Linked DNA regions of Homo sapiens. The protein of the gene in region 1 purifies or fractionates together with the protein of each later gene. This does not show direct contact. Each region holds a gene or a part of one and is shown in the gene's direction. Other genes may lie near its edges.

Evidence for each region. Proteins that work in one complex are often made in the same cells at the same time.
Region 2: the proteins of KIAA0930 (region 1) and RAB3IP purify together in Homo sapiens (affinity purification with mass spectrometry, with the first as the bait; one large-scale study listed by BioGRID). This does not show direct contact.

Annotation. Positions count from the first base shown.
Region 1 is NC_000022.11:45,230,895-45,234,394, reverse strand, and holds part of KIAA0930 (uncharacterized protein KIAA0930), read left to right. Parts: intron 1-3,500.
Region 2 is NC_000012.12:69,818,860-69,821,279, forward strand, and holds part of RAB3IP (rab-3A-interacting protein isoform alpha 1), read left to right. Parts: 3' UTR 1-2,420. UniProt on the Homo sapiens protein: Guanine nucleotide exchange factor (GEF) which may activate RAB8A and RAB8B. Promotes the exchange of GDP to GTP, converting inactive GDP-bound Rab proteins into their active GTP-bound form.

The DNA of each region.
Region 1 (3,500 bases):
TTGCCAGTCTGTGATCCTCCAACCTTGTCTTCTTACCTGAGAGCTCTCCCCCTGGCGTTTCAGGCTTGTCTTCCCCGAGCAGGAAGCAGAGGCCCCCTCTTCCCCATCGGAGGACCATGAGGCCTGGGAGCTGAGCCCTGAGCACAGGCCAGGCCAGCTCCCCAACGGCACCCACACGCACACTGACCTTCCACTCCTGGTCACCCCTCACTGCAGGCCACCCCAGCTTGCCGGGCCTCAGAGACAACAGAGACGTTTGCCCCTCAGGGTCAGTACATGTGCCCGGCCTCTGCCAAGGCCCCCGGGTCTCAGAATTCAACCAGCCTCTCCCTGTCACTGCTGTAGACAGGAGCTCTGCAAGCCCCAGTCCAGGCTCTCCCGCTAAGGGTTCTGTGGGATTGGGGAAGCCCTGGTGCATAGCTGCAGCTCCTGTGCAGCCCCAGCCCCGCTCTTCTGTCTTCTGGAGGCCCTTGTCCCTCTGGACCTCTGATCCCTCCTGCATGCGGTGCTGGGCTAGGCAGGGCCAAGCGGGACTTGTAAACAATACGTCATCTAATATCATAACCCCTGTCAGGTAGGAGTTAGCCCGTGTCTTACAGGGATGAAGCAGAGGCTCAGAGGGTTGAGTAGACCTTCCCTCGGTCATTTCCAGCAGCTTGGGTCTGGTGCACTCAGCTTCCTAAGAGGGCAGAGCTCACTGCCTATCACCCAAACCCGGCTGTCCTGCCCACCCTCCCAGCGTCCTGAGAGCAGCCACCAGGTCCCCTGGTGAGTCAGCCTAGTGAAGGTCCTGCCACCCGGGTGGGCACCCGGGCTGTTCTGCAGCTGAAGTAGAAGCGTGTTTTGACTGGATGTGATTTCCCACTTTCCAGGTGATGCCCGCCTCTGGGCCTTTATGGCTGTGGCTGCTGTGCTGAGGGGAGCTTTCCCACCCAGGCCTACCGACTCCTTGGAAGTGGGGCTGCATGCCCTGCGTGGCCTGTGCTGGGGAACTCGGCCTAGCACCTGTGCTTACCCGTTCCACTTGAACCTCAGCCTCCACTCCTTAGAACACCTCGCCTGCCTCAGTCTGCCCACCCTGTACCACACCGTGTCCAGAGCACAGAACCCTGGGGAACTTTAAAACAAAATGCCCATTCCTTCCCCCGACCTGGGCATCTGAGTGAAAGTCCTCCTGGGGGGCCCTGGAGTCTGTGGTGTAATTCATTCGTTCCCTCTGTCTGGGTGTGTCAGCCTGAGTTGGTGGCCACTGGGCTGTCTGTTTACCACCCCTGCCCCCATGTGATAGATGGGGCCACTGAGGCTCAGAAGCAGGAGGGACTGGCTGTGATGCCTTCCTCCACCTTCCTGATCTGGCCTGCTCCCAGCCACCTGTCCTTGGATCCACCTGAGCCCCAACAGCATGAACCTTAATGTCATCGACATTGACACCTGGCGGGGGTGGGTGGGAAAATTAACACTCCACGGGGTCCCTTCCTCACCCCCAGAGATACCTGTGCCCCTGAGTCAAAGCCGAACTCTGCACATCAGGGAAACGGAGGCTGAGGTCACATACAGAGCCCTGGCTCAGCCCCACCACATGGAGAGGCGGTGGGCCAGCCTCCCCTGGAGCCGGTCCCCACCCAGCCCACTCTGCAGGATGGGCATTCTCCTGGGAGAAGATGTGACTCCAGGCTTCCTGTGCCTGATGAGCTCTACCCTCCCAAGGTAGGGGGGCAGTTTGCTCCCAGTGTCCCAGTTTCGGCTGAGGCAGCAGAATGCCCTCTGGGTCACAGCCCGTCCTGGGGGAGCTGGGATGGAGAGAGTCCCAGAATTCAACCAGCCTAGCCCTATCACTGACACAGACAGGGGAGACTCAGAGTGGACCCCGACTGTCTCAAACAGGGTGAAGAATCAGGAGGGCTGGCTGCCTGATCTCACCAGTGCTGCCTCTTGCCCCGTGGTGCAAGTGAGGAGACCGAGGCAGGTGAACAACAGGCAGAGTTCCCTTACTCCACGTGTCCATTATCTTTAATGTAAAAGGGCTTTGTATTGGGATGTGCTTTGAATCTTGAAAAATGCTTTTCACACTTGGAGCAACACTTATGGCAGAGAAAGGGAGAAAAGCAGAATACAAATCCACATGTTATGAAGCGTGTGGATTATCCATGTAATTATAATAGAGAAGTGCTGCCCTGCACACCCTCGTGTGTCCTCACAGCAGTGCTGAGCAGAAGGCAGGAGGGGTGTTGTCCCATTTACAGAGGGGGACCAGGCCTCAGAGTGATAGGTGGACCTGGGGTGAGGTGGCCTTGGACTAGGCTTCTCCCTTCTGGTTCTTTCTGAAACCTTGCTTCATAGGCACCTTTCCAGCAACAACAGCCATTCAAGACCCTTGTGCCTGTTAATTTTGTTTGTTTGTTTTGAGAGGGAGTCTCGCTCTGTCACCCAGGCTGTAGTGCAGTGGCGCGATCTCGGCTCACTGCAAGCTCCGCCTCCCAGGTTCACGCCATTCTCCTGCCTCAGCCTCCCGAGTAGCTGGGACTACAGGCACCCGCCACCACACCAGCTAATTTTTCGTATTTTTAGTAGAGACGGGGTTTCACCATGTTAGGATGGTCTTGATCTCCTGACCTTGTGATCCACCTGCCTCGGCCTCCCAAAGTGCTGGGATTACAGGCATAAGCCACTGCGCCTGGTGTGCCTGTTAATTTCTTACCTTCTCTGCAGTTTTTACCCCTGTCTGAGTGTACATTTTTATGTATTTGTAGTCACCATTGTGTCATTTGTGGAGGTCATATATATTGAACCCTGGAAATGCAGTGCTGAATTAGGGTTGATCTGACTCTTGGGAGCTTGGCCCTCCCTGGGGAGGGGGTGGTGGCAGGCAGGTACAGGCTGATTGTTCATGCCTCTGGCTTCCCACCCCTGCCTCTGTATCCTGTTCACACACATCGCTGGGACAAGCCCAGACATCCCTCGGATCTTCAGGCCCCACTGCCAATGTAGGAGGTGAAAACTATCTTTCTTCCCATCTTAGGTTCATGGCTGAGGTTCCTATAACAAAAGGCAGAAGAGAGAAAAGTATAATTTAGTGTAAGTTTTACATGATACAGGAGCCTTCATAAGGAAGTGAAAATCCAAAGAAATGGGCTCAACCTGTGTATTTTCTTTCTTTTTTTTTTTTTTTTTCTGAGACGGAGTCTCAGATCTTGGCTCACTGCAACCTCTGCCTCCTGGGTTCAAGCGATTCTCCTGCCTCGGCTTCCTGAGTAGCTGGGATTATAGGCGGCCACCACCATGCCTGGCTGATTTTTATGTATTTTTAGTAGAGAGATGGGGTTTCACCATGTTGGTCAGGCTGGTCTTGAACTCCTGGCCTCAGGTGATCCATCTGCCTCAGTCTCCCAAAGTGCTGGGATTACAGGTATGTTGAGGCACCGTGCCCAGCCTCAACCTGTTTATTTTCTATGCTAGGTTTGATAAAGAAGTGGGTCATTGTGGAGGAGTCTGACTGGATA
Region 2 (2,420 bases), on another chromosome or scaffold:
ATGTTTTAGTCCCTGGGTTAGGTGGTGGGTTTTGGGGTGGTTCATTTGTCATTAAAAGTAAGTACATGAGCTGGGTGTAGTGGTGCGTGCTTATAGTCCCAGCTACTTGGGAGTCTGAGATAGGAAGATCCTTGAGGCCAGTTCAAGGCTATAGTGTGCTATGATTTCACCTGTGAATAGCTACTATATTCCAACCTGGGCAACGTAGACCTTGCCCCCCTTTAAAAAAATTCAAAAACAAAATAAATGCATGGACAAATGAATAAGAGAGTTATGCATGGAACATCGGTGGTGTATTATGAATCAAGCATTATTACTAGCTCAGTTATATGTGCCTTCATTCCAAAACAAAAAATAAAAGGTAAGAAAATTGTTGAATTGCATTTGAGAGAGAGGAAAGGAAAGAATTCAGGTCTGAATCTTAGGCTTTTGGCTTGAGCTATTGCAGTTTATTGAGATGGGGAAATACATGGTGGGGAAAGTTTGGGTATGTGCATAACAGAGACAGAAATTCAGTGTTTGACAGATCAAGTGTGAGGTGCCCACTGAGCATCAAAGTGGATATGTTAAGCAGGTATTGGATGTACAAATCTAAATTCAGTAAGGTCAGTCCAGGAGAAAATTTGGGGAGTAGTTAGCCATGGGATCAGATGGGCGCTTTAGGGACACTTTGGAGATGAAGTACAGCACTGAGCCCTGAGTTCCTGTGACAGAGAAGCAGCCTGCAAAGACGAAAGGAGGAGCTGTTAGGAAGAGCAAGGCAACAGAAAAGGAAGAACCAGCATGCTGATTATGTTCAGGAGAGTGTTTCTACGCTGAATTTAATTGCCAAGATTACCAATTCTAAAGAAGAGGAGGACTCTTGGACAAGTTTTTAGAAGTTGGTTTGGAGCTGGGGTGAGAGCCTGGCCTAATGGAGACAGCTCTGGATTGGGAGTCACTTAGACCTACATTCTGGTCTAGGTTTGGCTCCCAAAAACTGGGAAGGTTAGTTAGGTGGCCACTCCTCTCTCTTCATGGTCTCTCTCAGCTTGAAGACAATTTACAGTCTTTGACTAAGCATCCACACTGGAAGAACAAGATTTGGTTTCTGAACATTGGGTCTTAGTCCTTAAAATAACTTGCAACCTGTTACGTCTTCACTTACTCCCATCGCCACCACAAGAATCCTGTGTGTTTTTGTTTTGTGCATCCAGTCTAAAACGGGTCTGCTTTTATTCATAGGCTTTTGTTTTCAGTGGTTTTTGTTGTTGCATTTTTCCCTAGATAAAATGTTTTTTCTATAAGACACTGCTTAAAAGAGTCCAATGCAGTATGAATTTGTATTTGTGTTTAACTTTTGTGCTTAACAGATCTGCCATGGCTGAACTCTCAGTTGCTTAAGCAAAATTCTGGGGCTTATTCTAGGTTCCTTTATTTGTCATTGTCACTCCCATTCCAGTTATCAGCAAATTCCATCAGCTGTCTCCGAGACATCTTAAATCTGTCTACCTCCCTCCATGTCCACTGCTACCACTCTGCCCAAGCTATTATCATCTTTCACCTGAACTCCTGCACTAATGTCTGCTGTCCTTGCATCCACTCCTGCCCTCCTACAATCACTGACGGCAGCCGCAGGGATCTTTATAAAACGAAAATCAGATAATGTCACTTCCCTGCTTAAAGCCCTTTGAGTGGCTTCCCATTGCACTTAGAAAAAAAAAAAAAAAAAAAAACTGGCCAGGTGCGATGGCTCATGCCTGTAATCCCAGCACTTTGGGAGGCCGAGGCGGGCGGATCCCCTGAGGTTGGTAGTTCGAGACCTGCTTGGCCAACATGGAGAAACCCTGTCTCTACTAAAAACACAAAATTAGTCAGGTGTGATGGCGCATGCCTGTAATCCCAGCTACTTGGGAGGCTGAGTCAGGAGAAACGCTCGAACCCAGGAGGCAGAGGTTGTGGTGAGTTGACATCACGCCATTGCACTCCAGCCTGGGCAACAAGAGTGAAACTCCGTCTGAAAAAAAAAAAAAAAAACCCAAACTCAATAGAAAATCAAGTTTTCATAGTGGTAGTTGTTAACAGAGAAATAACAATGAAAGCTTTAAAAAACTCCATGAAAATTTGCAAAACTTAAAAAAAAAATGTAGAAGAGGACTAAACTTGATAAAATATTAAAAGAATTGAAACCCTTCCTAAAGGCAGCTTCTCAAGGGAGCACAAGTTCACACACAGTTTACTTTTGGAGGAACGTCTGAGGTCATGAGGACTAGATTCTAGAGCTACAGGTCTCAGGGACAGTCTCGAGGGATACAGGGCCCCCATCACCACATCCCCAGATTTAACCGCAGCAGCTCAGCTTTTATCTGTATCTGTTGGAGCTCTCTAGGAAATGTCAATACCAAAGCAAACCCAAATCACAACTAGATTAGATTACTATT